3 separate regions of the Homo sapiens genome follow, and all the other regions are linked to region 2. The links come from fine-mapping of genetic effects on gene expression. A gene starts in region 2. Each other region holds a variant in brackets. All regions are shown on one strand. Distances are from middle to middle.

What was found. PIP is the estimated chance that this variant, and not a neighbour inherited with it, causes the effect.
Region 1: its variant is fine-mapped to the expression of USF2 in whole blood (INTERVAL, PIP above 0.99).
Region 3: its variant is fine-mapped to the expression of USF2 in whole blood (INTERVAL, PIP above 0.99).

The regions. Positions count from the first base shown.
Region 1 is chr19:35,310,244-35,318,418 of GRCh38, forward strand. It overlaps MAG (myelin associated glycoprotein), which reads left to right. Exons shown (of 11, transcript NM_002361.4): 9 at 304-400; 10 at 1,675-1,774; 11 at 3,047-3,564. The coding sequence ends at 3,211. Among named protein-coding and RNA genes, the nearest start is that of CD22, 15 kb to the right of the region's middle. RefSeq lists enhancers at 1,203-1,704, 1,705-2,204. The variant C/CCTCT (reference allele first, on the strand shown) is at 4,309.
Region 2 is chr19:35,265,683-35,273,857 of GRCh38, forward strand. It overlaps USF2 (upstream transcription factor 2, c-fos interacting), which reads left to right and starts at 3,280. Exons shown (of 10, transcript NM_003367.4): 1 at 3,280-3,481; 2 at 3,764-3,810; 3 at 3,899-4,017; 4 at 4,121-4,321; 5 at 4,765-4,915; 6 at 5,036-5,123; 7 at 5,401-5,459. The coding sequence starts at 3,420. It overlaps LSR (lipolysis stimulated lipoprotein receptor), which reads left to right. Exons shown (of 10, transcript NM_205834.4): 6 at 677-850; 7 at 997-1,056; 8 at 1,154-1,285; 9 at 1,427-2,052; 10 at 2,142-2,282. The coding sequence ends at 2,177. RefSeq lists silencers at 2,061-2,140, 2,221-2,290, 2,391-2,540, 3,699-3,888, 4,029-4,348 and an enhancer at 4,636-5,375.
Region 3 is chr19:35,322,092-35,330,258 of GRCh38, forward strand. It overlaps CD22 (CD22 molecule), which reads left to right and starts at 7,096. Exons shown (of 14, transcript NM_001771.4): 1 at 7,096-7,139. RefSeq lists a silencer at 1,358-1,417 and enhancers at 7,673-7,722, 7,793-7,842. The variant T/G (reference allele first, on the strand shown) is at 4,902.

The sequences.
Region 1 (8,175 bases), 45 kb after region 2:
CACAGAGCATGGGCTATGCAGATTGACAGAAAGGTCAAATTCTCCCTTTCCGGTTGGAGAGGAGAAGCCGCCCTGAGTTTGCCCCGAGTTTGCTAGGACCTTTGAGGCATGAGCCCCTCCCCAGGGCCCTCTAGCATGAAAGGGATTGCCCTGGCACGAGGAGGCTCCGTGCCAATCAGTCAGTGCAAGGATGCCCCGGCTGTGTGACTACATTGACTGTCATCCCAGCATGTCTCCAAAGTTCTCAGGTGTCGTCACCACCACCCATAGCCCTAAGGGCGCCTGGGTCTTTTCTGTCCTCAGATCGACTGATGTGGGCCAAGATCGGGCCTGTGGGCGCCGTGGTCGCCTTTGCCATCCTGATTGCCATCGTCTGCTACATTACCCAGACACGCAGGAAGTGAGTGCCAGCTGGGGCTGATCTGGGGATGGGAGTCTCCAAAAAGGGGACCTGGTGGGAGATGGAGGCCCAGAGTGGGTGGGGGAAGGCAGCACCATAAGTGTAGAGAAGGCAGATTCTGTTCTGGGAATGTTCAGCTGGACAGAGGAGAGAGGGTTCCTGTTAATTCCAGCCCCTGCTGGTCAGGGGCACACCAGGGCCTGGGCTGAGCCCTTTACACACATCATTTGAGACCTGTTTGCCCACATTCTATTTTGACAGCCTCCCTATCTCTAGGAACTCTCCCCTACACACTCCAGTGTGGTGGGGAAAGCCCAGGTACCCCACTGCAGCCACAGCAGCAGGTCCACTTGACGCCAGAAGCCCCAAAGATTACACACATCTGGGGCAAAAAAAAAATAGGCCTTGGCCGGGCGCGTTGACTCACGCCTGTTATCCCGCACTTTAGGAGGCCAAGGAGGAAGGATTGCTTGAGGCCAGGAATCTGACACCAGCCTGGGCAACATAGCAAGACCACATCTCTAAAAAAAATTTTTTTTTAATTAGCCAGGCATGGTGGCACACACTGTAGTCCCAGCTACTTGGGAGGCTGAGGTGGAACGATTCTTGAGCTCAGGAATTAGAGGCCAGCCTGGGCAACATAGGGAGACCCCATCTACAAAAAAACAAAAAAATTAGCTACTAGTGGCACGTGCCTGTTGTCCCAGCTACTCGGGAGGCTGAGGAGGGAAGATCGCTTGAGCCTGGGAGGTTGAGGCTGTAGTGAGCTATGATTTCACCACTGTACTCCAGCCTAGGTGACAAAGAGAGACCCTGTCTCTAAAAACAAACAAACAGACAGACAGACAGACAGAAAGCCTCTCCAGCCCCAAACCATACCCACCTGGCCCAACTCAGCTGCAGCCGTGTTTCTTTCTTGTGGCACACACACATCAGCTGTCCTGAGAAATAAATTAACCCCTCTGCTCCACATCCTGGTGGCAAGAGGGGCAGAAAGACCCAGAGCCTATGAGGGGAACCTGGAGAATCCAGGTGGGGGTCCTGAAAAACGGCAGAGCTCAGGGGCCAGGTGGCTCGTCCCCAGCCGGGCAGGGGCCACAGAGGTGGGAAGGATGGGCTGTGTGGGTAGGAGAGGCTGGTGGTTCTGAAAGGGCTGCTTGCCACATCTTAGAGATGGGTGGGAGAACTCTGAGGTCCCCTGAGCCAAACTCCTAAAACACGTGGGGGTGCAGAAAGGGAGGGCAGAGAGAGGTCTGACGAGTCCTGCCCTGCAGAAAGAACGTGACAGAGAGCCCCAGCTTCTCGGCAGGGGACAACCCTCCCGTCCTGTTCAGCAGCGACTTCCGCATCTCTGGGGCACCAGAGAAGTACGAGGTAAGGACCAGGCTCCAGGCTGGCCTGGGAACCTGGATGCCAGGGACACTGAAGGCCTGGGAAAGGCCTGTGAGGCCAAGGGGCAGGGGAGTGGGAGCGGCCTCTCACAGGAGGAGAGGAAGGACATTCCAGGGCTGGGTTGGACCTGGAGGCTGGGGAGGAGGTGCCCAGGCCGAAGCTGTGTAGGGGGCGATGGGACGTGGGGCCTAAGGGCCCCCTCCCCTCCCTGCCTGTGTCTGTGACTGCATTTCCTTCTCCAATAGTCCAAAGAGGTTTCTACCCTGGAATCTCACTGAGTGCCCCAGGAGGTAGGTTCCGGGGGCCTCAGTGTGCCCTCCTCTGGGCCCTCCTTGGGCCCTGGGGTTGGCGTGCATGTCCGTGTGTCCCTGTCAGGCGTCAAGGTGGTCTCTGGTGATGTCCGGGCCTGCCCGGCAGTGCTGGCCTTGTCTAGTCTGTCCTGTTGCAGCTCCCTTCTGTCTGTGGCCACCGTCCTGTGTGTCCAAATTCCTGTGGCTAGGGGGTGGAGGGAGGGGTGGGAAGCGTGGGGGGAACCCACATGTCACCTGCAGGACCTCCCAGATTGAGGGCGGACCCATGCAGGACCCATGGGGGGGCACGTACCAAACCAGGTATTTCCAGGAATTTGGAAAGATGGGGTCCTGACTAGGTGGTTTTCACCCAAAAAGGTATTAGGGGTTACATTGTGTGCCCTCAAAACTCCTATGTTGAAAGCTTCCTGGACGGGGGCAGTGGCTCACACCTGTAATCCCACAACTTTGGGAATCTGAGGCGGATGGATCACTTGAGGTCAGGAGTTTGAGACCAGCCTGGCCAACATGGTGAAACCCTGTCTCTACTAAAAATACAAAAAATTAGCCAGGCGTGTTGGCAGGTGCCTGTAATCCCAGCTACTTGGGAGGCTGAGGCAGGAGAATTGCTGGAACCCAGGAAGTGGAGGCTGCAGTGAGCAAAGATCGAGCCATTGCAATCCAGCCTGGGTCTCAAAGAAAAAGAAGAAGAAGAAGCAGCTTCCTGGAGAAACTGAATTTGTAGGCAAATTTCAAGTTCAGCAATGATTAACACTGGCAGAAGCTCCAGAGTGGGACCTGGTGACCGCAGGGCTCGCTGGGCCTGCGGTCCTTGAGAAAGGAGGTTCTCGCAGGGATTTATTTGGGACTGAACTCAGGAGCTCTGAGGGTGCAAACGCTCTGTCCTCTGCATTGGGAAAAGGCAGGGAGCAGGACCCTGCTAATGGGCGGTTTCCCCTCTTAGAGCGAGAGGCGCCTGGGATCTGAGAGGAGGCTGCTGGGCCTTCGGGGTGAGCCCCCAGAGCTGGACCTGAGCTATTCTCACTCGGACCTGGGGAAACGGCCCACCAAGGACAGCTACACGCTGACGGAGGAGCTAGCTGAGTATGCTGAAATCCGGGTCAAGTGAAGGAGCTGGGGGCAGCCTGCGTGGCTGACCCCCCTCAGGACCCTCGCTGGCCCCCACTGGCTGTGGGCTCCCTTCCTCCCAAAAGTATCGGGGGCTGGGGCAGGAGGGGAGTGAGGCAGGTGACAGTGAGGTCCTGGGGGCCTGACCTCCCCCTCCTTCCCAGCTGCCCCTCCCTGCCAGCACCCCCACGCCCTCATTACGGCTCCTCTCTAACCTCCTTTACCCTCATCTGTCTGGAGGGGAGCTCTGTCTGTCCGTGTTATTTATTGCTACTTCCTGCCTGGTCTCCTGCCCCCACACCTGGCCCTGGGGCCTGTACAAAAGGGACATGAAATAAATGCCCCAAAGCCAAATGCCAGTCTAGATCCTGATGCTTTCTGACCCGCCTTTGGGCAGCCTGCCATCCCACCGTCTACAGAACGATGACAGAATTTCTCCTTGCCCTCGGCTGAGCCTGGTATGCAGGCAAGGGCCCAGGGATTTTAGCCTTGAACCCAGGGCCAGTGGCCACTAAGTTGCTCCCACTCTGAGCTGGTAGCTGCGAGCTGGGTCTGGTTTGACTTATGGATGATTTCACATAAAAATCCTCATGCTGGTTTTTGCCGCAGTCAGATCAGCTGACAGCACCAGGCTTGCACTTGTACGTGGACATGACTTGCTGAAAGGGAGGGTCCTGTGCACTGGCCGCAGTCCCCACCACTCCCTATTGTCCCACACCTGGCCGGCTTCCTGCACTGAGATTACCTCCTGGTCCCTGCAGCTTGGAGTGCGAGCCACAGATCTAGGTCTCACCAGCCCGTGTTGGTTTCACCACCATCTCTCACATTCATGCTGCAATTTGCAGCGTCAGCCTTTATACATCACTACATTCAGTTCCAGAAACATTAATTAAGCACCAGCTGTATACTGAGCCCTTTCTAGAGGCTCAGGCTGTCCTGAGAAGGGTCTCCTAGGACAGCTCTGTGACGATGAGAACACTGAGACTTAGAGAAGTTAGGTGATTTTCCCAGGGTCCCAGAGCTCGGAAACGGTGTGTCCAGGCCATGGGGTTGATGCTTCTGATTCAAATGCACTCTTTCTTTTCTTTTCCCTTCCTC[C/CCTCT]CTCTCTCTCTCTCTCTCTCTTTTTTTTGATGGAGTCTGTCTCTGTCACCCAGGCTGGAGTGCAGTGGTGCAATCTCAGCTCACTGCAACCTCCGCCTCCTGGGTTCAAGTGATTCTCCTGCCTCAGCCTCCCAAGTAGCTGAGATCACAGGCACTCGCCACCACGCCCGGCTAATTTTTGTATCAAATGCACTTTTTCTATAATACCTGTCAGGAAGTTAAAAAGGGCCAGAGTGTCTGGTATAAATGGGATTGATAACTAACAGTTGTTGAACGCTTTCTATGATTCTACCCAGTTTGCATTAATTAATCTCCATTAACCTCATTTACCTTCCCTAATAACTATGACAATGGTTCTCAAAGTGTGGTCCCTAGGCAGCAGCATCAGCAGCACCCAGGAACTTGCTAAAAAGGCAAATTTTCAGCCCCCACCCTAGACTTCAGGAATCAAAAACCCTGAGGTGGGGCCCAGGAATCTGTGTTTTGAGAAGTCCTTGGTGGATTCTGATGCACGTGCACGTTTGAGAACAAGCAGCTGAAGCATGGAGAAGTTACATCAGTTCTGTGGTCCCCAATTGTTAGCAGTGGAGCCCAGATTTGAGCCCCGACCACTGGCTTCGGAGGCCACACTCTGACGCTGTGCTACACGGCCATCTTGGTGAGAACCAACAGCTGCTCACAGAGCCCGGGTGCTGGAGGAGCAGTAAGGTTAAGCTGTGGGCTGCGGGCAGTGAGGGCAGGGTTTCCTAGACGGCAGCTCTCCCTGATTTTTTTTTGTTTTTTGTTTTTTTTGTTTATTTTTTGAGATGGAGTCTCACTCTGTCATCCAGTCTGGAATGCAGTGGCACGATCTTGGCTCACTGCAACCTCTGCTTCCCAGGTTCAAGCACTTCTTCTGCCTCAGCCTCCCAAGTAGCTGGGACTACAGGCGTGTGCCACCACACCCAGCTAATTTTTGTATTTTTAGTAGAGACGGGGTTTCACCATTGTTGGCCAGGCTGGTCTCGAACTCCTGACCTCAGGTGATGCGCCCAACCCACCCTCCCAAAGTGCTGGGATTACAGGCATGAGCCCCTGTGCCTGGTCTCTCCCTGCATTTTGAAGAAGGCAGAGGACACAGCACAGAGACCAAAATAAAGGCCTAGAGGCAGGAATAAACAAACCAGGTCGGGAGGGGAGGTGACATGGGGCTGCTTGGCTGGGATGGGAAGTCCACATGCAGGAGGAAAGGAGACGTGTGGGGGGCCGGGCTGTGGGAAGGGAAACCCTCTGTGGGGCCTGTCCAAGCTGGGAGGGTGCATGCCCTTTCTTCACGGAGCTCACAGTCTTGCAGGGACAAGGACATGAAAGAATCTCATGCACAATATCAAACTGCAACTGTGACACCGGCTTCCAAGGAGAAGCTCAGAGTTTTTACAGCAGGGGTCCCCAGTGCTATACTGCACACCCAGATACTGGTCTGTGGCCTGTTAGGGACTGGGCTGCACAGCAGGAGGCGAGCAGCCAGCGAGCAAGCATGACCACCTGAGTCCTGCCTCCTGTCAGATCAGCAGCGGCTTTAGATTCTCATAGCAGCACGATTCTTATCGTGAACTGTGCACGCAAAGGATCTAGGTTGCACACTCACAGATGGTGCCTGATGAACTGTCACTGTCTCCCATCACCCCCGGATGGGAACGTCTAGTTGCAGGGAAACAAGCTCAGGGCTCCCACTGATTCTACATGATGGTGAGTTGTATACTTACTTCATTATATATCACAATGTAATAATAATAGAAATAAAGTGCACAATAAATGTAATGTGCTTGAATCATCCCCAGCTCCCTCCCCACTCTCAGGCCCATGGAAAAATTGTCTTCCATGAAACCAATCCCTGGTGCCAAAAAGGTTGGGGACCGCTGTGTGACTTAAGGTCACAGGGGGCAGGGGAGGCTTCCCTATGGAAGGAAACTCACACATGTGTGAAGGCCCCAAGTGGGAACATGTTTAGCAAAATTCCAGGAGCTGAAGCAAGGCCAGAGAGGCATCGGATGGGGCTGGGGATACACAGGGGCCTCTCAGCAGCCGGGAGGGAAGCCTCTTCCAGATCCCCTGCATACATGCTCACCAGCCCTGCCCTGACACACCTGTCCCCTGACGACAGACTCTGGCTCCAGCAGGTCTGGCCTGGGAGGACTTCACCCAGAGGAGCAAAACATTGTCAATAACCAGGGATCGGGGAGTAACTCACGCTGCCCAAAGTGCAGCTTGAGGGCCCTGGGAGCCACTGTGACGCTACTGTGTATGCTTCATTTAGTATGCACCGGAACAACAGGAAACCAGAATGCCGCACCAGCTTCGGATGAGGCTAAGTCAAAATAAATAAATAAGAAAGAAATCAATCAACTGAACTGATTTTAAAAATGTATTAAATAAACATGTTGCAGGTGGCTCCTGAAGGTTGTAGGCAAACCTCTAAAGTTTGGGAAACAATGAGGGAATTTGACACAAAGACCATCCTTAGGAGGGACCGGCACTCAGCCATGGCGAACGTGTAGGACCGAGCCAGGTGCGGTGGCTCATGCCTGTAATCCCAGCACTTTGGGAGGCTGAGGCTGGTGGATGGCTTCAGCCCAGGAGTTTGAGACCAGCCTCAGCAACATAGCGAGACCCTGTCTCTACAAAAAATACAAAAATTAGGCAGGTATGGTGGCATGCGCCTGTAGTCCTACCTACTCGGGAGGCTGAGGTGGGAGGGATAGTTTGAGCCCAGGAAATGGAGTTTGCAGTGAGCCGAGATTGAACCATTGCACTCCAGCCTCAGCAACAGAGTGAGACCCTGTCTCAAAAAACGAACAAACAAACCAGTAGGACCTGAACTCAAGTTCACTCTCTCAGACTTTCCCCACCCAGCTCCTGGACCCCACCAGAATTCAACACATGCTCACTGAGCACCTCTGTGTGCCAGGCCTATGCTGGGCCCCAGGGTCACAGCAGTGCCCAAAAAGAATCACTCTGTGACCTCCCAGAGCTGACATTCTGCAGAAGAGACAGACAACGATCAGAAAGACAAGCAAACACATGACCGCACATCTGACAGTGAAGGAACTGCAGAGGGGTGCAAGGTCAGGCTGTGCTGGGTCAGGCTGCCATTTCAGAAAGAGAAGTCATTTGACTTGAGACCAGAAGGAAGTAAGGGAGGGAGCTCTGTGGGTTCCTGGGGAATGTGGGTCCAGGGAAGGCCAAAATCGAGTGCAAAGGCCCCTGGCGAGAATGTACTTGTTACCTTCATGGAACAAGAAGGAAAGAAGCATGCTTGAGTGGAGTGATGGAGCCAGAGTGGTTGCCCAAGGAAGCTCGATTACACAGGGCCTTGTAGGCCACAGGCAGGACTGGGGCTTGTTTGTTTGTTTCTTTGTTTGTTTGTTTTGAGGCAGAGTATCGCTCTGTTGCCCAAGGAAGCTCGATTACACAGGGCCTTGTAGGCCACAGGCAGGACTGGGGCTTGTTTGTTTGTTTCTTTGTTTGTTTGTTTTGAGGCAGAGTCTCACTCTGTTGCCCATGCTGGAGTGCAGTGGCACAATCTCAGCTCACTGCAGCCTCTGCCTCCCGGGTTCAAGCAATTTTCCTGCCTCAGCCTCCTGAGTAGCTGGGATTACAAGCATGTACCACCACGCCTGTCTAATTTTTATATTTTTAGTAGAGACGGGGTTTCACCATGTTGACCAGGTTGCTCTTAAACTTCTGACCTCAGGTGATCCACCCGCCTCAGCCTCCCAAAGTGCTGGGAATACAGGCGTGAGCCATCCCGCCCAGCAATGGAATTTAATCCTAGGTTTTTTTTTTTTTTTTTTTTTTGAGATGGAGTCTCGCTCTGTCACCAAGGCT
Region 2 (8,175 bases):
GCCTGGTGGGGCAGGCAGAAATGGGTGCAGTCCATGAGTTAGAAACACTAGAGGAGACACTTTGCTGCTTGGCCGGGGCAGGCAAGTTAATTCCCGAGGCTCCTGCCACTGCATCTCAATCTGGAAGGTGACCAGGTGGGCAGGACCCACGTCTCCCAGATGACTCATTTTTTCTAGAACAGGGGCTTGGCTGCCAAAGAGGATACTTGATTTCGGCTTGTGGGGACAGTGGTGGACCCAGCATCTGGGCTTTATATAAAGGGCAGCTTTGTTGCCCTGTAAACACACAGACCATGGGTGGCCACTTCTTCCAGTAAGTTAGCTGGGGAGTTGGAAGTTTAGGTAAAACCTTTTGATTGACAAATGTTGGCGAATTACCATGCTGTTAAATGAAACATTGTTCTGCCACCCTGGGGCTGTGGGTGCCTGCGTGCACCCTCTGAAAAATCACACAGGAAGTGGGGTGGGGTCTCTGTGAAGCTGGTGTCCCCCAGCCTCAGGGATGCTGCAGAAATGGAATGAGGACCAACAGGGACTCAGATGTCCAAGGAAGCTCTACAGCGGAGAGGACGGCTTGGGAAGGAGGTCCAGGCCCAGGTCCCTCCGGAACCCAATGGGTATGGGGCAGCCTGGCTCCTGCCTCATCCCCCTTCTCCTGTTGATTGTGTCCTCACAGTGTATGCCGCCGGCAAAGCAGCCACCTCAGGTGTTCCCAGCATTTATGCCCCCAGCACCTATGCCCACCTGTCTCCCGCCAAGACCCCACCCCCACCAGCTATGATTCCCATGGGCCCTGCCTACAACGGGTACCCTGGAGGATACCCTGGAGACGTTGACAGGAGTAGCTCAGGTGAGGCCGGGGGAAGCAGGAACAGCTGGTGGGAGTGTGCTGGGCATCTGGACACTGAGGGGCAGGGGCTGGAAGGAAGAGTGTCTTGGGAGCCGAGGAGGGGCTCTGCTCCTGGTGCGCGGCCACTGACAGCCACTCTCCCCCAGCTGGTGGCCAAGGCTCCTATGTACCCCTGCTTCGGGACACGGACAGCAGTGTGGCCTCTGGTGAGAATCCATCGTCCCGAAGTTGGATGTGCCTGTAAGGGAGAGGGGTGGGCCAGGATCCATCCTCCCAAACCGACCACCACCCCCCTGTCCCTAGAAGTCCGCAGTGGCTACAGGATTCAGGCCAGCCAGCAGGACGACTCCATGCGGGTCCTGTACTACATGGAGAAGGAGCTGGCCAACTTCGACCCTTCTCGACCTGGCCCCCCCAGTGGCCGTGTGGAGCGGGGTAAGCAGGAGCCTTGGGGTCTGAGGGCTTTTAAGGTGGGGGGGTGAAACATGTCTCCCTGATACCTGCCGCAGGGACTCTTGGTGCAAACCCTGGACCCCGGGCTCCTCCAGCAGTCAGTGACACCCCCCTTCCCTGCAGCCATGAGTGAAGTCACCTCCCTCCACGAGGACGACTGGCGATCTCGGCCTTCCCGGGGCCCTGCCCTCACCCCGATCCGGGATGAGGAGTGGGGTGGCCACTCCCCCCGGAGTCCCAGGGGATGGGACCAGGAGCCCGCCAGGGAGCAGGCAGGCGGGGGCTGGCGGGCCAGGCGGCCCCGGGCCCGCTCCGTGGACGCCCTGGACGACCTCACCCCGCCGAGCACCGCCGAGTCAGGGAGCAGGTCTCCCACGAGTAATGGTGGGAGAAGCCGGGCCTACATGCCCCCGCGGAGCCGCAGCCGGGACGACCTCTATGACCAAGACGACTCGAGGGACTTCCCACGCTCCCGGGACCCCCACTACGACGACTTCAGGTCTCGGGAGCGCCCTCCTGCCGACCCCAGGTCCCACCACCACCGTACCCGGGACCCTCGGGACAACGGCTCCAGGTCCGGGGACCTCCCCTATGATGGGCGGCTACTGGAGGAGGCTGTGAGGAAGAAGGGGTCGGAGGAGAGGAGGAGACCCCACAAGGAGGAGGAGGAAGAGGCCTACTACCCGCCCGCGCCGCCCCCGTACTCGGAGACCGACTCGCAGGCGTCCCGAGAGCGCAGGCTCAAGAAGGTGAGGGCCGCCCTCCCTGGCGTCCAGACCGTCCCTGGGCCCCCAGCCGGTCCCCGCGGCTCATACCCTTCTTTCTTTCTCCCTTGCAGAACTTGGCCCTGAGTCGGGAAAGTTTAGTCGTCTGATCTGACGTTTTCTACGTAGCTTTTGTATTTTTTTTTTTAATTTGAAGGAACACTGATGAAGCCCTGCCATACCCCTCCCGAGTCTAATAAAACGTATAATCACAAGCTCTGGAGAGAACCATTTGTTCGGCCGCGCGGGGCGGGGGACCGGGGCTGCTCCCGTATGCGTCTGTAAAGCGCCGCGTCCCGGGGGCACCGGAGTCCGGGGCCGGGAGGAAGAGACCCAGCCTGGCCCGGCCCGCGCCCGCGCCGCCGGCCGGAGAACGTGCCCCGCGCAGCCGCCGCCCGCCTGCGTGCGCGCCCCGGCCCCGCCCAGGCGTGCGCATGCGCCCCGGCCCTCCGCCTTCGCGCACCGCAGGCTGGCCGTCCGGGACGCGCGCGCGCTCCTCTCCCCTTCCAGCCCATCCCCCCCAGCCCCCCACCGACCTACTTTACTGTCTCCAAACTCGGGCAGCCCACCTGGCCCCCGACGACCCCAGCCCCTGCACCGGGTACCCCGACGTTCCATCCAGACCCGCGTTTCACCAGGGCGGCGCGCGGCGACCTCGCGCCCCGCGGAGCCCCGGGCTCGCGCGCGCCCGCCCGCCCCCGGAGACAGACCAGCGCGCGCGCCCCGGGCCGCCTCCCCCCAGCGCGCGTCCGCCCCGGGGCTCGCGCCGCCGCCGCCGCCGCCGCCGCGCGCGCGCAGCTCAAGTAAAGGAGGAAAAAAAAAAGGGGGAAAAATAGAAAGCGGCGGCGGCTGCAGCAGCGATCCGCCGCCGGACTGGGCCAAGCCGGGCGGCGGCCGCGCGAGCCGGCGATCCAGGGCACTGGCGGCGGCCAGCCAGGGCGGGCCGTGTTCAAAAAAAAAAGTCGCGGCGGCGGCGGCTGCTCAGGGAAGGAGGCCTGAGGGCCGCGTGCAGCGGGCGGGCAGCTGGGTGGGCTGGGGGCGGCCGCGCGGCGTCCCGGAGCCTCGGGCCGCCCGGAGCCGGCGGGCGGGCGGAGGCGGAGGCGGCGGCGGCTGCAGCGGCTGCAGGAGCGGCGGCGGCTGCGGCGGCGGCGGCGGCATCTCCTCCTCACATGACCCCACTGTTTGTCCCCGTGATCAGCGCGAGCGGCTCCCGTATCTCCTCCGTCCCCTCCTGCCGCGCGGCGTGAGCGCCGGGCTCGGGGCCCCCCCGGCCGCCCGCCCCCTCCCCTCCCTCCCTCCCCTCCCCTCCCCTCCCCCCCGGGCCCCGCGCCCCCCCCGCCCCCGCCCCCCCCATGGACATGCTGGACCCGGGTCTGGATCCCGCTGCCTCGGCCACCGCTGCTGCCGCCGCCAGGTAAGATCCCCGGCCCGGCCGTGCCCCCGCGCCCCGGCCCCGGCCCCGGCCCCGCGGCCTGCAGGCCGGGGCCGCCATGATCCCGAGCGGCCGCGGGCCCGGCTCAAAATGGAGGCCGCCGGCGCGGGGGGGACCTGGCGCCTCCCGCCCCCGGCCCCCGGCCTCGGCGGCGCCCCCGGCCTCAGGCGCGGCCGGGTGGGACTGGGGCCCTGCAGCTGGGCGCGGGGGCGGGGGCGCGGGCGCGGGCCGCGCTGACCCTGCTCCCTCCTGTGCCCCTGGCAGCCACGACAAGGGACCCGAGGCGGAGGAGGGCGTCGAGCTGCAGGAAGGTGAGTGCTTGCCGGGCCGGCCGCGCCCGGGGAGGGCTGGGGGCGCTCGGCGCGGCCCTGACCGTGCCCCGACCCTCCTCGGCCCCAGGCGGGGACGGCCCAGGAGCGGAGGAGCAGACAGCGGTGGCCATCACCAGCGTCCAGCAGGCGGCGTTCGGCGACCACAACATCCAGTACCAGTTCCGCACAGAGACAAATGGAGGACAGGTGAGCGGCGGGCCGCGAGGGCGAACGGGCGGGCGGGCGGGCGCGCCGGGAAGGCTCGGACCTGGCCCCAGCGCCGGCCTCGCCGCTCTGCCGCCCCCTGCAGGTGACATACCGCGTAGTCCAGGTGACTGATGGTCAGCTGGACGGCCAGGGCGACACAGCTGGCGCCGTCAGCGTCGTGTCCACCGCTGCCTTCGCGGGGGGGCAGCAGGCTGTGACCCAGGTGGGTGTGGACGGGGCAGCCCAGCGCCCGGGCCCCGCCGCTGCCTCTGTGCCCCCAGGTCCTGCAGCGCCCTTCCCGCTGGTAGGTGCCCTGCCACCCCTGGGTGGGGGGGGGAGGGAGTGGAGAGGGGACACTGGCTCTGCTCTTGGGGAGCCCCGGGGGTGGGGCAGGTGTCGCCCAGCGGATGCTGCCTTCAGGCCTCAGGCTGCATGGGGCCAGATCCCTGTTGTGCACCGTGAAACCTGGGGACAGTGCTCTTGGAATTTTTTTTTCCCGCAAAATGGGAATGATGTGTCTTAAGAGGAAAGTTTCTTAGAGTGCGAAACGGATTTGCTCAGCAAGTGATCGCTGACCTCCCGCCATGTTCCAGGGCTGTTTGAAACACAGGACAGAATGCTACACGCAGAAGGAGTCCCCACTCCTGTTAATTGCAGAGAATGCAGTAAACCCCAAGCACAGCAATGAGGGGACGGGATGGAGGAACAGAGAAAGCTAAGGGTAGCCTCTGCCCTCCTACTCCCCAGGCTGTGATCCAAAATCCCTTCAGCAATGGTGGCAGTCCGGCGGCCGAGGCTGTCAGCGGGGAGGCACGATTTGCCTATTTCCCAGCGTCCAGTGTGGGAGATACTACGGCTGTGTCCGTACAGACCACAGACCAGAGCTTGCAGGCTGGAGGTGAGGAGTAGAAGTCAGATTGGCAGGTGGGGGAGGCAACGGGCCCAGCAGGGAGGGAAGCCCCCCCAGCCAGTTCTGACTTCACCCTGCCTTGCCACTAACCCCCCACTCTCCCTGCAGGCCAGTTCTACGTCATGATGACGCCCCAGGATGTGCTTCAGACAGGAACACAGAGGACGATCGCCCCCCGGACACACCCTTACTCTCCGTATGTGCAGGGGACACCTGGAGGGCCTGGTGTTGAAATGGAAGGAAGAGGGGTTTCTGGAGTAGAAGCTGGGCAGTTAGCATGAAGTGGGCACATGGTGTAATGTTTTTTTTCTTTGCCTGTTTCTGCTGCTCTAGTGCACATAAAGTATCATGTCTTTTGTTTTTGCAGATGGATTTACCTTGCAAAGATAATTTTCAAATCTAATACTTAGCAGATGCTTGGGCAAACAGCTCTGCGATAATACATGCCCCCTTTTTTTTTCCTCCTCTTGTAGAAAAATTGATGGAACCAGAACACCCCGAGATGAGAGGAGAAGAGCCCAGCACAACGAAGGTGAGGACAAGGTGTGGCTCCGGGTCCCCCTGACCACCACCCTCACAGGCTCAGCCAGCCCTGGAGTGTGGAGTGACAGAGAGAGAAGCCACTCCTGGGCAGGCCACAAGTGCTCCAGAGGGCTTTGCTGGACGCTGTAAAGGTAGAAAGTGAGCAACGAGGGGAGAGTACAGTGTCAGAAGTAGAGGGACAGGGAGTGTGAATTGGAACTGGCCATTTGTTGACCCGGCTGGTGATCTTGAATTCATGGCCCACATCTAAGATGGTGGACTTCACACTCCCATACGGATTGCCTGCCCCACTTGAAAAATGGGGCTGACCGGGCTCACGTGGGCTGACCTTTCCACGTGGCAGCTGTCATGCTCACATCCCGCACTCCCATGCCTGCCTGGCCTCCAGAAGTAGGTCTGTTCCCCCAGGGAGCACATCTGAGGGAGAAACTGCATGAAGTTCTGCCTCTGGCTACCTAAGGCCGGAGCATCCTGCCCTTTCCAGAAACACCAGGTCTCACCTCAGGTCATTTGGCCTTCAGCACTGTCCCGCCCCGCCTGTCAGTAGCCACTGCAGTGGGCACAGCACTGTGCAAGTGCCAGGAGAGTGCTTACACCCAAACAACCATCATTCAACAAATATTTACTGCCCGTGGGTTCTGGGCTGAGCGGCACAGGCCCTGTGCCAGGTCTGGAGTCTGGCCTGGAGCGTCAGGGAGGCTCAAAGGCCTGAGGGCTTATGTCTCATGGGTCTCATGGGACATTGATGGGGGGTGGGCTGGGGTGACGCTTCCCTAGGGAGAGGGGAGTGTGGGTCAGGTTACTTTGTGGGGTGCTGGTTTGGTTGTGGGAGAAGTTCCATTTAGAATGCCTCAGGAGGGAAGATCGGGAAGGCCTCGAATGCCCGAGTGAGGGGCTGAATGCTGAGTCCTAAAGGTGGTGATGGGACTGGGGTCTGTGGCCCAGGTAGTTGTGTTCTGAGCAGCTCCTCCCTGAGTTCAGGCGTTCATTCAGCGCGTGCATACTACGACCAGCCCCCCTTTTGCGTCCTCAGATATGGCAATGCAGCAGATGATAGGACAGACAAGGTCTCAGCTCTCTGTGCGCGTTCTGGTGGGAGAGATGGGAGTCACACAGCCGCATCAGGCAGTGCAGGCAGTCACAGGCAGGAGAGGAAAGCTGGGGAAGAAGGTGGCGGGTGATGGCGGCATGGTAGTGTGCTCTGAAGGGCTCTTCGAGAGGTGACATTGAAGCAGATCCCTGAAGCGACCTGAGGGAAGGGGCCTGTTGAGAACCTCAGGAGAGTCCCGGGCAGAGGGAAGAGCTAGAACACAGGCCAGGCCCTGAGCCAGGGCCGCCATGGTGTGTCTGCAGAAGAGCAGAATTCAGGAAAGGAAAGAGGAAGTTGGCGCAGTGGAGGGGGCTGCCCAGGCCAGATGGTGGAGGACCTTGGAAGAAGTCCCCAGTGTGGCTGTCTGGGCTCCTGTGGTTTTATTCCAGGGTGATGAGAAGCCAGCAGAGGGGTTTGGGTTGTGGAGGCTGTTGGCAAGAGTGGTGGGAAGGGGCTGGGAGGTAGGAGACCATACGACTGTCAGGCCTGAGACAGGGCAGGGGTTGGGGGAAATGTGGGGAGGACTCCAAGGCTGGAGAATAAGGGTTTCGTGCTGAACTCCCCTCCATGCTTGGAAGGGAAGGGGTGCATCTGAGCTTGGTTTTGAGATGCAGTGAGTTTGAGGGGCCCCCAGAGCAGCCCCAGCCCCACGACTTACCTGTGGTGGGGCGTCAGGGTGGTTCTTAATCTCCGTACCTGTCTTCCCTCTGTGAAATGGTGGAAGCACAGCCGCCCCGGGCACCTGGTGGGGATGCAGTGAGTCTTGGTGGCCACACAGTAAGGCGAAGAGAGGACTCAGAACCCTCCCACCCCACTCTCACCCCCGCCTCTCCCTTAGTTAATCTGACTCCAGGCAGCCTTGAAACTTTCTCACCCTGTGAAGCAGTCTTCATCACCTGCCCACTTCTCCAGCTCCGTCCTGTCTCCGCTTTCCTGACTTGCAGAGCATCTGCCCCAATCTGCTCATCCTCCCAGTACCCTCAGCCATCTGGCTCATGGCTCTACCAAAACAGCTCCACTTCCGGTCACCCGTGGTGACCCCATTGCCACATCCACTGGCCTCCTTTGCTGTCTGGGCTCCAAGCATCTGATGCTGCCTGTTTCCCTCTGTTCCTTTCTGGAATCTTCCTTTCTCCTCCATCCTCTCTGATTCTCCTGTGATCTTTGCCTTTCCTACCCCACTGTTAACAGTGAAATTTCCAGGGCTGTCCCAGTTCCAAGTGAGTAGATGGGGGTGCCGGGGAATCTGTGTTTTCCATCAGCTCTTCAGGTGATTTGTCATAGTGGACAAGCTTGAGAAACTGCTTTGGCTGCGAGTGTTTCTTTTTTTTTGAGAAGGGGGTCTCACTCTGTCACCCAGGCTGGAGTACAGTGGCACAATCACAGCTCACTGCAGCCTTGACCTCCCAGGCTCAAGCGATCCTCACACCTCAGGCTTCTGAGTGGCTGGGACCACAGGCAGGCGTCATCACATGGGGTAATTTTTTTTTATCTGTAGAGTGGAGGTCTTGCTATGCTGCCCAGGCTCGTCTTGAACTTCTGGCCTCAGGCAGTCCTCCGGCCTCGGCTACAGGCCTGAGCTGCCACACCCAGTCTTGCTGGTGTTTCATAAGGT
Region 3 (8,167 bases), 56 kb after region 2:
CAAAAAACAAACAAACAAAAAGAATGTTGTAACACATGTGATCCTTGGAGACTGGCTTTTTTCACTCTCTGTACCACTCTTCAGAATCGTCCAAGTTGTTGCCTGTATCCTCTTCATATCTCACTCCTTTTTATTGCTGCATAGTACTCCATGGCATGGATGTACCGTAATCTGTTAAGCCACTCACCTAGTGAAGGACGTATTGGTTGTTTCCAGTTTTTGGTTTTGCTTTTTTTTTTCTTGAGATGGAATCTTGCTCTTGTTGCCCAGGCTGGAGTGCAATGGCGTGATCTCGGCTTACCGCAACCTCTGCCTCCCAGGTTCAAGCAATTCTCCTGCCTCAGCCTCCCGAGTAGCTTGTGTTAGAAATGCTTGATTTTTGGTGCTGTAAAGAAATAGCACTTTAATGTAAATTTAATTTCTTCAGCAAGGCTAGTTTTACTTTCTGCAGAAAGGGTATACTCGCTAGCAGTTTTGCTACAAAAGTACACTGAACAAAGGAGACAGGGTCATTTATAACTTGATGCATCTACTTTATTGCTGTGTCTGGTTTCTATTGGCTGAAACGGGACCTCACATTCTGTATTTGTCTGGATTGGCTAGCAACTTAGAACTTTTTAAAAGAGGCAAAGGCAGAGGAGAACAAAGGAAGGAGAAAGTAACGTGGAATACTGAGAAAAGTAAAAACATTTCTAAATAAGGAAGAGGAACAGGCTTTGACTTAATGCTTTCTTGGACTAGTATAAGCATGCTAGGGCAAATCTTTAGGCTAAATTGTAGGATCTAAGAACATAAAGTACATTGATTTTTTTATTATGGCTAGTAGATATTTAAGAATGTTAGCACAGGTCTTTGAATAAATTTTGCTTCTAAGAGAAGTTACTATTTATTCTTAATTAGATGGGGAGGACAGTCTCTTTGAAAAGGAACTTCTACTTTACTATTTACACTGGGATTACCAGCATGTACCGCCACGACCAGCTCATTTTGTATTTTTAATAGAGACAGGATTTCACAATGTTGGCCAGGCTGGTCTCGAACTCCTGACCTCAGGTGATTGCCCTCCTTGGCCTCGCAAAATGCTGAGATTACTCCTGACCTCAGGTGATCGCCCACCTCGGCCTCCCAAAGTGCTGGGATTACAGGCGTGAGCCACCGTGCCTGGCCTGTTTCCAGTTTTTGGCTATTACAAACAAAGCTGCTGTGAATAATTGTGTGCAGGTTTTTATGTGGACATACGTTTTCATTTCTTAGGGATAAAATGCCCAGGAGTGCAATTGCTGGGTCATCTGGTAGGTATATTTTGTTTAGTTTTTCAGGAAACCGGCAAACTGTTTTCCAGAGTAGCTGGACCACTTTGCATCCCCACCAGTCGTGTGTGAATGTTTCAAGTTCACAGCATCCTCACCAGTGTTTGGTGTTGTCATTATTGGTTATTTAATTTTAGCTGTTCTAAAGCGGTATCTTGTCATGGGTTTCAATTTGCATTTCACTAATGGCTGGTGATGTGAGACATCTTTTCATGTGCTTATTTGCCTTCTATATACCTTCTTCAGGGAAAGGTGTCATCATGTCTTTTGCCTATTTTCTAACTGGACTGTTTTTTATTTATTTATTTATTTATTTATTTATTTATTTATTTATTTAGAGACAGAGTCTCACTCTGTCGCCCAGGCTGGAGTGCAGTGGTGGGATCTCAGCTCACTGCAACCTCCGCCTCCTGGGCTCAGGTGACTCTCCTGCCTCAGCTTCCTGAGCAGCTGGGATTATAGGCGCACACCACCATGCCTGCTAATTTTTGTATTTTTAGTAGAGATGGGGTTTTGCCATGTTGGCCAGGCTGGTCTTGAACTCCTGACCTCAGGTGATCCACTTTGCTTCCCAAAGTGCTGGGATTACAGGTGTGAGCCATCGTGCCCAGCCTGATTTTTATTTTATATATATATATATGTACACACACACACACAATATACATACACACACATATATGCACACATATGTGTGTTAAAGCTGTATGTAAAGCTGTTATATATTACATATATACTACATATATAACAGCTTTGCTGAGATATAATTCACATACCATAAAACACACCCATGTAAAATGTCCAATTGAATGGTTTTGGGTCTATTCACTGAATTATGCAACCATCACCACAACCAGTTTTAGAACATTTCATCACCCCAAAATAATCTCACATCCATTAGCAGTCACTCTTCATTTCCTCTTACCTTTCCCACCCCACCCCAGCCCTACGCAACCGCTACATCTACTTCTGTCTCTACAGATTTGCCTTTTCTGAATATTTCACGTGAATGGAATCATACAATATGTGACATTTTGTGATTGGCTTCTTTCACTTAATGTTTTCAAAGTTCATCCATATCCAGGCGCCGTGGCTCACGCCTGTAATCCCAGCACTTTGGGAGGCCAAGGCGGGTGGATCACCTGAGGTCAGGAGTTCAGGACCAGTCTGGCCAACATGGTAAAACCCCGTCTCTACTAACAATATGAATAATTAGCTGGGCGTGGTGGCGGATGCCTGTAATCCCAGTCACTCAGAAGGTTGAGGCAGGAGAATCGCTTGAACCTGGGAGGCAGAGGTTGCAGTGAGCCGAGATGGCACCACTGCACTCCAGCCTGGGCAACAAGTGAAACTCGGTCTCGAAAAAAAGTTCATCCATGTTGTAGTATCTATCAGTACTTCATTCCTTTTTATTATCAAATAATATTTTATTGTTTAGGTCTCCCATATTTTCTTTATTCATTCATCTCTTCATGGACATGTGGGTTGTTTCTGCTTTTTGGCTTTCATGAATAATGCTGCTGTAAACATTTGTGTTCAAGTTTCTGGGTGAACATGTTCTTATTTCTCTTGGTTATATATGTAAGAGTGGAGATGCAGGAGTGTATGGTAATTCTATGCTTAATCTTTGGAGGAACTGTTTTGAGACTTTTTTCCAGAGTGGCTGGACAATTTTATATTCACACTAGCAATATATAAATGATTTAGTTTCCATACATCTTTCCAGTATTTGATACTATCTTTTATTTTAGCTGTTCTTATAGATGTTAGTAGTGATATCTCATCATGGTCTTAACCTGTCTAAAGGCTAGTGATGTTGAATATCTTTTTAGATAATTATTTTCTATCCATATATCCCCTTGGGTGAAATTTCTCTTTATATCTTTTGCCAGTCTTCTAATTGGATGATTTGATTTTTTTATGTAGTGTTTCTATGTTGAATTTGAGAGTTCTTTATATATTTGTTCTAGATAGGAGTCCTTTGTCAGATATGTGGTTTGCAAATATTTTCTCTTAGTCTGTAATTTGTCTTTTCATTCTCTTAACTAGGTCTTTTACAGAGCAAAAAAAAATTAATTTTGATGAAGTTGGATTGATTTTTTTAGGGATCATGCCTTTGGTGTCATGTCTAAGAACACTTCATCAAGCTCTAAGTCTCACAGATTTTCTCCTATGTTATCTTCCAGAGGTTTTTTGTTTTTATTTTATTTTACTTTTTAATTAAGACAGAGTTTCGCTCTGTTGCCCAGGCTGGAGTGCAGTGGCAGGATCTCAGCTCACTGCAACCTCCGCCTCCCAGGTTCAAGTGATCCTCCTGCCTTGGCCTCCTGAGTAGCTGGGACTACAGGCACGCACCACCCAACTGGCTAATTTTTTGCATTTTTATGTGGTTGCTTTCGAGAATTTTCTCTGCCTCTTGTTTTTAGAAGTTTGACTATGATGTGTCTTGGCATGAATTTCTTTGGGTTTATCCTGTTTGTGATGCGCTCAGCTTCTTGAATCTGTAGACATATGTTGTGCGTGTGTGTTGTCAAATGAAGATAATTTGCAGCCATTACTTCTTGGAATATTTTTTTAAGGCCCACCCTCCTTTTCCTCCCCTTCTGGGACTTCAATGACAAAATGTTAGATCTTCTTTTATTATAGTTACTCATGTCCTTGAGGCTTTGTTCCATTTTCTTTCATCTATTTTCTTTCCATTGTTCAGAATGGGTAATTTCTATTGTTATACGTTTTGTTTCACTGCTTCTTTCTTCTATACTCTCCATTCTGCTATTGAGCCCATCCATTATGGTTTTTATTTCAGCTCTTGTATTTTTTAGTTGTATTTTTTAGTTCTAAAGTTTCCATTTGGTTCTTCTTTATATTTTCTATTTCTTTGCTGATACTTTTTATTATTTTATTTGTTTCAAGCACATTTATAATTTCTCAGTGAAACACTTTTATGATGGCTGCTCCAAAATCTTTGTCAGATAATTCTAACATCTGTGTCGTCTTGATGTTTGTGTCTGTTAATTATCTTTTGTTATTCAGTTTGAGAATGCCTGATTCCTAGTATGACAAGTGATTTGCCATTGAAGTCAGGATATTCTGGGCACTGTGTTATAAGATTCTGGATCTTCTTTAAATATTTTGTTTTAGTGGGCTTCCCTTTATACTGCTCCAGCGAAATAAAGTAGGGCACTGCCTGATTGCTTCCAGACAGGGATAAAAGTCCAGGTTCTCCATCCAGCCTTTCCTGAACCTGGGGGGTTGGGAGAGATGAGGCCTCCATGTTATTGTTTGGTAAGGGTAGAAGTTCAGGTTCCCCACTAGGAATCCATGACAACTCCCTGGCTGGGAGTGGGAGGGATGCTTCATTACTGCTCCCTATGTGGCTTTCACTGACACTGTGTGTGGCAGAGAGAGGGGGGTGCTTGTTACCACTGAGTGGTGGCGAAAGTCCCAACTCTCCACCAGGCCCCCTTTGACACTACTCCAATGGGGCCGGGTGGAATGCCTCATTTCTGCATTGGGGTGGCAGTGGATGTCCAGGCTGCCCACATGGTTTCCACCAACACCACATCGGGGGAGGGTGATCCCAGTGGGGAGGAA[T/G]GTCCCAGCTCCAACTCTAGCATCACTCTGGCTGAGTATGGGAGTGGCCTAGGGTTCTTTGTTACAGCCTGGTGAAGGTGAATGTCTAGGTTTTCCATCCGGCCTTTGCTGACAAGGGTGATGATGGAACTTGGATGGAGCGGAGCAGGTATGGACTAAAAGAGCTCTGTCTTTCTAGGATGCCCCTTTCCTCGTTCTTTGGCTAGAAAAGCATAGTTTTGCTAGAACTTGTTCTGTTGGGACTTTTTCTTGTTTGTGCCCCTTGGCATTTTCAGTTGTTGGCTTCTCCAGTATTCAGCCTGAGATATATGAGGCAAAGAGAAATCCCAGGGAATTCACCACCATTCCTTAAGTCCCGAGGTTCCTAACCAGTCTGCTTCTCTCCATCTTTCAGTCTTCTTATGCTTGTCTTGTCACGTTCAAGGTTTTCAGTTATACTTGGCAGAATAAATAAATACATCTACTCCATCTTTCCAGAACATCACTGCTTTTTGTTCATTTTATTTATTTATTATTTACTGAGACAAGGTCTTACTTTGTTGCCTGGGCTGGAGTGCAGTGGTGCTATCATGGCTGACTGAAGCCTTGAACTCCCAGGCTCAAGCGATCCTCCTGCCTCAGCCTCCCAAGTAGTTTGGACCACAGGCATGGGCCACCATGCCCAGCTACTTTTCATTTTTTGCTTTTGTTGACTAGCCCCACAGAGTTTTGCTGTGTTGTTCAGGTTGGTCTCAAACTTCTGGCCTTAAGCAATCCTCTTGCCTTGCTCTCCCAAAGCGTATTACAGGCATAAGTCACCACACCCAGCCCTATCGGTGCTTTTGGAAGAAGGTGTTCTTCCCTCTCTCTGTTTCCCTCCCTATGGCCAGCTGCCCATAGAGGGCAGTGGTGCTGGAGTGAAGACCTCTCAGCGCATCCCTCTTCATCTGTAGGATGTGCATGGCTTCCAATGCTGTCTGTTCTGCTCCTGAGACACTCGCTGGCTACAGGATTATAAAGGTGATGAGGTTTCAGCCTAAAGACTCTCCATTCAATAACACTTCCTACAAGATATCTTTTTTGTTTTTTTGAGACAGGATCTGGCTCTGTCACCCAGGCTGGAGTGCCACAGCGCGATCTGCTCACTGCAACCTCAGCCTCTCGGGCTTAAGTGATTCTCCTGCCTTAGCCTCCTGAGTAGCTGGGACCACAGGCGCCCGCCACCACACCCAGCTAATTTTTGGATTTTTTTTTTTTTTTTTTTTAGTAGAGATGGGGTTTTACCATGTTGCCCAAGCTGGTCTTGAACTCCTGAGCTCAGGCAATCCACCCGCCTTGGCCACCCAAAGCGCTAGGATTACAGGCATGAGCCACCATGCCCAGTCCTACAAGATATCTTTTCTTTTTCTTTCTTTCTTTCTTTCTTTCTTTTTTTTTTTTTGAGACAGAGTCTCACTCTGTCACCCAGGCTGGACTGCAGTGGTGTGATCTCTTCTCACTGCAGCCTCCGCCTCCTGGGCTCAAGTGATTCTCCTGCCTCAGCCCCCTGAGTAGCTGGGACTACAGGCGCCTGCCAAAACACTTAGCTAATTTTTTGTATTTTTAGTAGAGACGGAATTTCACCATGTTCGCCAGGCTGGTCTCGAATTCCTGACCTCAAGTGATCCACCCGCCTCAGCCTCCCAAAGTGTTGGGATTCCAGGCATGAGCCACCGCACCCGGCCGAGATATCTTTTTCCTCCTCAATATCTATGTGCTCCTCCCTCAACCCTTGGGGGCTTCAGTGTAGGTGGTCAGATTCCCCACCATTTATGCCTATGATGAAAAGAGTGGAAATGGTAATAACTGGATGGTGTCACTAAACTACAAATACTTTCAGGTAGGCCTGTGCCTTTTTCAGCGGGCTGCAGTTCTCCTGCTTGGCTTGAGTCATTCGCATTTCCTGAGAGCTGGGTAGAGGGGGAGTTGTGGAGGAGCCCATTCTGAAACTGATCTGATATTGCAAACCCATACACGGAAAGGAAGAACTGCCCATACGTATTCGAGTCTTCCAATCTGACTCCGAGCCCGCATCCCCCTCAATCGTCTCTTTTCCCCACTCCCCAGATCACGGTGCTGCTTGGTCCCCCTCAGAGCCATAGAGAAGCAGGGGGTGTGGCCATGGAGGGGAAACCTCTGTCACCAGAGACTTTACTGTACTTCTCCTTTTGCTCTCAGATGCTGCCAGGGTCCCTGAAGAGGGAAGACACGCGGAAACAGGTAAAAATCATTTTGCTTTTATTTTGCATTCAACAAGCAAGTTATTACGGAACAGCAGTTATGGGCCAGGCATACCTCCCAGAGCTGGGAACACAGTGGGGACCTCCCTGGCTCTCTCTTACCGGTGTTACAACAGGTTGTAGACAGACCCCTGTCTTGAGCATCCTCCTTGCCAGGCCTGCTGAGTCTTCTGAGAGTAGGGTAGGTTATTGGATGCCCAGGAGGGAAGAAGGAGCCAGGGAGGTCAGCCCCAAGGTTCTGCAAGGCCCTCAACAGGCCTGGACTGAGGAGGTCTGGACAGCATGGCCCTGTCCTGAGCCTCTGTGCATAATAACTGCTGTCCCTAACCTCCACCCCACCCTCAGCCTTCCAATTCCCGGGCCTGGGGCCCTACTCCTGTGCTCCAGAGACTCCTGGAGCTCCTTGAGGCAGCACACAGTCCTGCTCTGGAGGCGCCCATCTCCCACTCATGCTGGGATGCTCCAGCCCGTCCCAGAGCAGGTTGTGGCTGGAGGGTGCTGGCAGAGGAGGGACAATGGCCCGGCTCCTGGAGGCAAGTGTTGGCTGCAGGGAACGGAGTCTAGTCCTTGCCACAGCCCTTGTTACCCCTTAGGTAACCTTAAGGGGATTTCAAAGAACTCTGGCTCTGCAACCCTGCTAAGTTTTTTATGGAACATGTAAAATAGATCCCATGGCCAAAGAAGTATGGACAATGTATTATACTATACTCTAATCCCCATGTCTAGAGATTAATGGTGTAGATAGAGTTTACTGAAAGGTTTTTAAAGTCCTGCAGTAAAGAATCTTACTTAAGCCAGGTGCGGTGGCTCACGCCTGTCATCTCAGCACTTTGGGAGGCCAAGTTGGGGGGATCACCTGAGGTCAGGAGTTTGAAACCAGCCTGGCCAACATGGTGAAACCCCATCTCTACTAAAACAAACAAACAAACAAACAAATCAGACGGGTGTGGTGGCACATGCCTATAGTCCCAGCTACTCAGGAGGCTGAGGCAGGAGAATCACTTGAAC